2 separate regions of the Homo sapiens genome follow, and region 1 is linked to region 2. Evidence: fine-mapped expression QTL. A gene starts in region 2. The other region holds a variant in brackets. All regions are shown on one strand. Distances are between the middles of the regions.

The links. PIP is the estimated chance that this variant, and not a neighbour inherited with it, causes the effect.
Region 1: its variant is the best candidate, but not a certain one, in a credible set for the expression of ZNF790-AS1 in whole blood (INTERVAL, PIP 0.73).

What each region holds. Positions count from the first base shown.
Region 1 is chr19:36,829,982-36,834,377 of GRCh38, reverse strand. The region is part of intron 1 of ZNF790 (zinc finger protein 790); the gene reads left to right. Among named protein-coding and RNA genes, the nearest start is that of ZNF790, 6.2 kb to the left of the region's middle. The variant C/G (reference allele first, on the strand shown) is at 2,235.
Region 2 is chr19:36,795,029-36,799,424 of GRCh38, reverse strand. It overlaps ZNF790-AS1 (ZNF790 antisense RNA 1), which reads right to left and starts at 1,875. Exons shown (of 6, transcript NR_040027.1): 1 at 1,614-1,875. RefSeq lists an enhancer at 1,584-1,653 and silencers at 2,074-2,233, 2,244-2,313.

The DNA of each region.
Region 1 (4,396 bases), 35 kb before region 2:
TCATTGTTAATCCTTAAGAGTTCTTTGTATAATCTGAATGAGTCCCTTGTCAGCTTTGTGTATTGTATATATCGTCTCCTAGCGTAAGGTTTGCATTTTTACTCACTGTCTTTTTTTTTTTTTTTTTTTTTTTTGAGATGGAGTTTCGCTCTTGTTGCCCAGGCTGGAATGCAATGGTGCGATCTCGGCTCACCGCAAGCTCTGCCTCCCCGGTTCAAGTGATTATCATGCCTCAGCCTCCTGAGTAGCTGGGATTACAGGCATGCGCCACCATGTCTGGCTAATTTTGTATTTTTAGTAAGAGACAAGGTTTCTCCATGTTGGTCAGGCTGGTCTCGAACTCCTGACCTCAGATGATCCACCCGCCTCAGCCTTCCAAAGTGCTGGAATTACAGGCATAAGCCACCATGACCAGCCCATTCACTCTTTTCTGATGAACAAAAATTGCTTTTTAAAATGTAGTCTGATCATTATCATTTTTCTTTTATGGTTTGTACTCTGTATCTTATTCAAATCTTTGCTTATCCCCAAGGTATGAAGATATTCTGTATTTTCATCTATATTTATCTGTCACATGTAGGTATATAAACCTGGAATTGATTTTTGTGTCGTGAGGGGAAATCATGATTTGTTTTCCTCATATAAATTCAGTTGACCTGGCACCATGTATTCAAGACCATCCTTTCTTCCATGTTATTTATTTGCTCTGAAATCTATGGTGTCTTGATATTATAGCCACCTAAGCATTATTTTGATTATGATTTGCATGGTATATCTTTTGCTATCCTTTTACTTTTAAGCTTCCTATACCACTATATTGGGGAAACTGACACCTTGAAAATTATCAGCCTTTCATCCCATGAATGTGATAAATTATTTCATTTGTTTAGGTCTTCTTTAACTATTTGTAGTAATTAATATAAAGACATTGTACAGGCCAGGTGCGGTGGCTCATGCCTGTATTCCCAGCACTTTGGGAGGCTGAGGCAGGTGGATCACCTGAGGTCAGGAGTTCGAGACCAGCCTGACCAATATGGTGAAACTCTGTCTCTACTAAAAATACAAAAATTAGCTGGGCATGATGGCTGGTGCCTGTAGTCCCAGCTACTCGGGAGTCTGAGACAGGAGAATTACTTGAACCCGGGAGGCGGAAGTTGCAGTGAGCCGAGATTGTGCCACTGCACTCCAGCCTGGGTGACAGAGCGAGACTCTGTCTCAAAAACAAACCAACAAACAAAAGATATTGTATGTTACATATATTGTTAGATTTATTTATAGGAATTTGAATTTTTCCTGCTAAGTGCTGTCATTTTAAATTTCCTACTTTTTGCTTGTATGTTGAAATTTAATTGACATTTTGCCCTGTTTGACTTACATTTGTATTCATTTTTTTTTTTTTTTTAGAGAAGGTCTCATTCTTTTGCTTAATCTGGCCTCAAACTCCTGGCCTCAAGGCAGTCCTCCTGCCTTGGCTGTAGTCCTAAACATTTCTAAATTTCTTCCCCTTGATTTTCAGCTTGAAATGACACCCTTTATCTCTCAGTTATCACAAATGAGGCAATCAATGAGCTAGTCTATTTTCTATTCTCTAACCTTCATTTCTATATTAGTTATCTATTGCTGTAAAACATATTACCCTAAAACAGAAATAAATATTTATTATCTTAACACCATTTTCTGTGGACCAGGAGTTCAGGAGTGGCTTAGCTGGGAAGTTCTGGCTTGGGGTCTCTTGAGGTTGCAGTCACACTCTTGGCCAGGGCTGCTATCATTTGAAGGCATAACAGGGACTAGAGGATCACCTTCCAACGTGGCTCTCACATGGCTATTGGCAATAGACTTCAGTTTCTCACCATGTAGACCTCTCCATGGGGTTTCTTAAGTGTCCCTGTGATACGTCAACTGGTTTTCTCCAGAGCAAAAGGACAGCAAGAACGCATAAGCTGGAAGCCACAGTGTCTTTTATATCTATCTCATACTCTATCATTTCCGCAGTACCTTATTGCTATACAAGTTAATCCTATTCAGTATAGGAGGCAGCTACACAGTGTTGTGAATACCACATACTGGGTACCTTTGGGGCCATCCAGGATGCTGGCTACCATAATTCCGCTTTTACTATTTTATTTAGATTTGCATTTAAATATGTTCAGCATCACTACTATTCTTTTGCTGAAACTTTCACTATTGTTCTTTTGTGGCTGGAGTATGTCTTCTAGTAGCTTCTTCTGAAA[C/G]AGCGCATGTCAACAGTATTTCCTAAGTTGCATCATAAAACTCCTTATATCCTTTATACTCGAATGACAGCTTGGCTGGATATAAAAATGTTTTGACTCCCTCATTTGTTTTTTTCACAAGTATATTGGAAGATTTACCCCACTGTTTGGGGTACTGAATTTAGCACTGCAGAAGTCTGATGACAATTGAATTTCCTTTTTCTTATATTTGATATTTTTATCTTGATTCCCCATGAGTTTTAGTCTAATTTTATTAGGTCATGTTTTGCTACTATTTTGGTTCATTTTCACCTGTAATATGGTTTCACTTTTCATCACGTTTATTTATACTCTATTTCAGGAAATTCATCTTGAGTATTAAAACTGTAGTGTTAGATACACAGCTACAACCATCGTTTTAGATATATCCTCTTAATTTGGATTTCATTTTTAGGTGCTCTGCGTTTTGCATATTGGATCTCTCTTTTCATTTTCATTTCTTCAAATGATTTTTGTTTCTTTGTTAAATTTTGTTCTGTTCATTAATTTCTGTATTCTGTGTTCCATACTATACTTTCTGTGGCATTTGTCAGATCTTATGCGCCTAGAGATGGGGGTCTCACTGTGTTGCCCAGGCTGGCCTCAACCTTGAACTCCTGGACTCAAGCAATCTTCTAGACTCAGTCTCCCAAGTAGCTGGGACCACAGGCACATGCCGCTGCACTAGCTAGTTTATTCTTCATTTCTGATGTGACTTAGCCTATTTTCTCTTTCAGTCTTGAATTCCACTAACTCCCATCTATGGTCTATCTATTACTTTCTTCTCTCTCCTGAGATCGTATATTTTTGCTTGTGGTCTGCTTTTAGAGCTGCAATTGCATCATACTTTTTTTTTAATTCAGACTGAAATGTTGGGTGATGATTTTCATCTTCTCTGATTTTTTTAGTGAGTTTTTTTGTACATGGGGGATTTTGACACACTTTTAAAACTTTGTGTGTTTTTTGTTGTTGTTGTTGTTGTTGTTTTGAGATGGAGTCTTGCTCTGTTGCTAGGCTGAAGTGCAGTGGCGTGATCTTGGCTCACTGGAACCTCTGCCTCCCAGGTTCAAGTGATTCTCCTGCCTCAGCCTCCCAAGTAGCTGGCACTACAGGCACATGCCACCACACCTGGCTAATTTTTTGTATTTTTAGTAGAGACAGGGTTTCACCATGTTAGCCAGGATGGTCTCGATCTCCTGACCTCGTGATCCGCCCGCTTTGGCCTCCCAAAGTGCTGGGATTACAGGCGTGAGCCACTGCACCAGCCTAAAACTTTTATCTAACTATCTTACGCATGTTATATCTAATTTATATTTTGGAGAGGATGTAATAGATTTTCCTGGAATAGCTGTCACTGGTATTTTCATGTGAAAAAAGTGAATGGGGCAAGGGTAGTTTTTAAGGTTTTTTTGCTCAAGGGTTTCTTCCTCTGTTACCCCAGTAGAAGACAATTTTTTTAAAATTTGGTTCCCTTTGAATAGCCAGGCCTTCTTTACCATTCAGAAGCTCAACTGGTTCAGGAGGACTCCTATTATCAGCTCTGAGTTCACCCAGTGTCTTCTACTATAATTAAGGAATACAGCCAAGTCCCCAGCTCATTTTATGAGGCCAGTATTTCCCAGATACTGAAACGAGACAAAGTATATCTCATAAGAATATGGGTGTAAAAATCCTCAACAAGTAGTAGCAAACCAAATCCAGTAACATCTAAAATGAATTATATAACATGACTGAGTGGGATTTATCCCAGAAATGCAAGGTTGGCTCACCATCAAAAGTCAGTTAATGTGATACATCATATCAATAGAATAAAAAAACAAAAATCACACAATCATCTCAATAGATAGAGATAAGGCATTTGACCAGAGCCAATACCCTTTATGATTTTTTTTAAAACATACACATTCTACAAACTAGGAATAAAGAGGAATTCAACCTGATATCTAGGAAAAACCCACAGCCAACATCACACTTAATGGTAAAAGACTGGATGTCTTCCCTCTAAGATCAGGGACCAGACAAGGATCCCCACTTCTGTTTAACATTGTACTGGCAATTGGGCTAGGGCAAATGGGGAAGTAAAAGAAATAAAAGACACTGGAGAAAAGAACGGAACACAGCTAAGAGCATCTCTATTTGCAGAT
Region 2 (4,396 bases):
ATTTCTGACATAGTAATAGTGCCTATGACAGCCACCTTAACACATTAAGTAACAATAGCGAGTAGTAAATCATCACTGGGAACTGTTACTTGGAAATGTCTTGGAAAGCAGTGACAACCATGAAGGCTATTTGTAGATGCTGTCAGATGACATAAAAACTGCTGTGGTCTCACTGCCAACAATACCCCATACCCGAGGGGTCTACAGCCTATATTCAAGATGGAAGGAAACACTACATTTTGGTTAGAGGAATGTGAAAATTTACACGAGCCCTTCTCATGGGCCCCTAAACTTGGCTGATGGAACTGTGGGTAATAAACTCAGAAGGAGTCAAAGGCATCAAGGTTGCTCATGAAAGAGCTGAGGTTACCAACTCAAGTGTAGACAAGAAAAGAGAGAGGAAAAAAATGGTAGCTCGGCAGGGAGGTCAGAGGGATAGCCAGGCTTAGTTTCCAGACATCCAGGAAAAGGACACCCATCTGAGTAATGGATTGAGAGTCAGTATTAAGATACGGAGAAATATCAAGGAGAAACATTAGTGGCTAACGCTGGACATTTCCACAGCTCTCACATAACCAGAAAAACTTAGCTTAATTTTAGTAACAATGTCAGAAGCACAAGCGTGCTGAGAATTAAGAACAAGGCCTTTGAAGAATGTGGGGACTGTTTTATAAAGCACTGAATCTTCACACCTCATGAAGACAGAGACCTGGAGCCTACAGGTGTCTCATTCACACTATGAAATAAATCCTACAAAAGTAAGAGATCCACTAACTTTTTAAAGGATTTAGGAAGATATATATATGAAATCAGCCAGGTGCGGTGGATCACACCTGTAATCCCAGCACTCTGGGAGGCCGAGGCGGGCAGATCACCCCAGGTCGGGAGTTCGAGACCAGCTTGACCAACATAAAGAAACCCCATCTCTACTAAAAATACAAAATTAGCTGGACGTGGTGGCACATGCCTATAATCCCAGCTACTCGTGAGGCTGAGGCAGGAGAATCGCTTCAACCCGGGAGGCGGAGGTTGCAGTGAGCAGAGATTGCACCATTGCACTCCAGCCTGGGCAACGAGAGCGAAATTCCGTCTCAAAAAAAAATAATAATAAAAAATAAAAGTTGTTTCTTTCACAAAAGTTACTCTACATACGTGCTCCAAAAATAAGATTTCAAAGACACTGGGGAAAATACTACTACTAAGATATCAAAACCAGGAACTTACTTCCTTTAAAACAATTCCAAACTAACTCGCTGCGCCTTTCACAGAAATTTCCCACAAGAAATATGATTTTATAAAGCCTGAGAAGTTGCTGCTGTTAGGAAAACCACCAAAACTAAAAATTGGTTTAATTAGCAACAACAACAAAATGCCATTTTAACTGGCTGTCCTTATCAGAGACAGTCCACTAAATAATGCAACTGGCAAAACGTGAGATTTTTTAAAGGGTGGGGTGCTTTATTATAAACATAATATAAACCAGGAATGTATTTTATTTAATAAACCTCAACCTGCCGGTCACTCCCTCCCTTCGAGGCGTTCTGCAACAGAACACCTGGCTAGAAATAAAAGGGCGTTTTACCCCAGTGGGATGAAAAAGCCCCGTTTTTTACCTTTAATCGCGAGACAATACGGGTCAGAGGTCAGGAAATTATGTCAGCACCAATGCGGGCGCCCACGAGTGCGGTGGACCGATGTGGAAGGGCCGGGACGCAGCCCGAGTCCCAGTTCCCGCCGTAGCGATGGCCGATTTCCCAGCCGCGGACGCTGAAAGCGAGGACTCCACGCCGATGACCCTTCGGCGTACCATGTCCGGCGGGCGCTTGGCCAAACAGCCCAAGACTGCGGAATCACACTCGCCACTGTGTACCTGGACGCCATCTGCAGACCCAGCGCCTGCGGGGATTCCGGAAACGGGAGAGCGGGCTTCCGGAAACGGTGACCAATGGGAAACGTGATCAGATGTTACTAGGCGAACAGTCCGTTTCCAGGCAACACAGAAGGAAGAGACGCTCTCAGTCACCCTAAAATAGACGGAGCTTTCAGCCAATGGATATGCAGGTTTGCTCCAGATTAGCCAATAAGAAGTGTTTGGGGCCGGCCGAGCGCGGCGGCTCACGCCTGTAATCCCAGCACTTTGGGAGGCCGAGGCGGGCGGATCACGAGGTCAGAAGATCGAGACCATCCTGGCTAACACGGTGAAACCCCGTCTCTACTAAAAATACGAAAAATTAACCAGACGTGGTGGCGGGCGCCTATAGTCCCAGCTACTCGGGAAGCTGAGGCCGCAGAATGGCGTGAACCCGGGAGGCGGAGCTTGCAGTGAGCGGATATCACGCCACTGCACTCCTGCCTGGGCGACAGAGCGAAACTCGGTTTCAAAAAACAAAAGAAGTGCTTGTGGCCGACCTTCCTACAAGCACAGCAGAAACTTTCCTGCGCATTTCTGCGCTGGAACGCCTACCCGCCGCGCCAAACCAAAACTTTGCAATCACGTTTGGTGCTGTTTCCTGCACTTTCTTGGAGATTAGCACCAGGCGCTGGAGACCCTCCCACCTCGCCCACGCCCACCGCCCGGTGAACACCGAGACCCAACCTTGTGCACCGCCAGTCTTGTGATCAACAAACAGGCTAGTAAAGTATAAAAATAAAATAAAGGAAATGTAGTCGGGCGTGGTGGCGTGCGCCTGTAATCCCAGCTACTCCGGAGGTTGATGCAGGAGAATCGCTTGAACCTGGGAGGTAGAGGTTGCGGTGAGCCGAGATCGCGCCACTGCATTCCAGCTTGGACAGCAAGAGCGAAACTCCGTCTGAACATAGTAAAATAAAATAAAGGAAATGGGGCCGGGCGCGGTGGCTCACGCCTGTAGTTCCAGCACTTTGGGAGGCCGAGGCGGGCCGATTACTTGAGGTCAGGAGTTAGAGAACAGTCCGGCCGCCAACATGATGAAACCCCCGTCTGTACTAAAAATACAAAAATTAGCCAGGCGTGCTGGCGGGCGCCTGTAATCCCACCTAGTCGGGAGGCGGAGGCACAAGAATCGCGTGAACCGGAGAGTTGGAGAGTTGGAGAGTTGGAGAGTTGGAGAGTTGGAGAGTTGGAGGTTGCAGTGAGCCGGAGGTTGCAGTGAGCCGGAGAGGCGGAGGTTGCAGTGAGCCGAGATCCCGCCCCTGCGCTCCAGCCTGGGCGACAGAGTGAGACTCCGTCTTAAAATAAAATAAAATAGGCCGGGCGCGGTGGCTCACGCCTGTAATCGCAGCACTTTGGGCGGCCGAGGCGGCTGGATTGCCTGAGCTCAGGAGTTCGAGACTATCCTGGGCAACGTGGTGAAACCCCGTCTCTACTAAAAATACAAAAATTGGCCGGGCGCGGTGGCTCACGCCTGTAATCCCAGCACTTTGGGAGGCCGAGTCGGGTGGATCATCTGAGGTCAGGAGTTCAAGACGAGCCAGACCAACATGGAGAAACCCCGTCTCTACTAAAAATACAAAATTAGCCGGGGTGGTGGCGCATGCCTGTAATCCAGCTACTCGGGAGGCTGAGGCAGAAGAATCGCTTGAACCCGGGAGACGGAGGTTGCGGTGAGCCAAGATCGCGCGCGCCATTGCACTCCAGCCTGGGCAACAAGAGTGAAACTCCGTCTCAAAAGAAAAAAAAAAAGAAAAAAACAAAAACAAAAATTAGCGGGGCATGGCGGCGCATGCCTGTAATCCTACCTATTTGGGAGGCTGAGGCAGGAGAATCACTTGAACCCGGGAGGCGGAGGTTGCAGTAAGGGAAACTCCGTCTTTAAATAAATAAGTAAAAAGGAAATGGATAGAGGAAACATTAATGCATGAAATCAAACAAATGCTTTCGCTGAAGGGCTCCATCTTTGCAAAACCGAACCTAGGACAATGTGCACGTTTGTAACTAGCAATTCCGTAGGACAGATCGGAGAGGCAGCATGAACTTGATTTTCTGTAATTTAAGAGTTGTCAGTAAAGTCAGTGTTTGCAGGCATTTTCAGTGTTCTGCAGTGGGCTTCAGTTCGGCAGTGTGGCAGGCCAGGTTTCCATTAGCAACCAGAACAGTTTCCATTAACACTTTACTATAATTTTGATGAATGCATAAGTTAAACGTTAAAGAAATTGAGAAACTGGTGCCTGAGTATCAGGGATGGAATGCGAAAACGAACCCATTAAGACCCCGCCTGGGTCCTCTCAGACCCTAAAGTCTGATCGAATAATAATAGTATTCTTACACATTCACCTGGGCCTGTCTTAAGATTCAGAAACTTTCCAAGACTCTAGAGAAATCTTTCCAGACCCTAGACCGTAGTTAAAGATTAGATGTTGATTGAATGCAACATTTCTGCTTGTAGGTGCAGTCCCACCATAGCATTGAGCTTAAGAT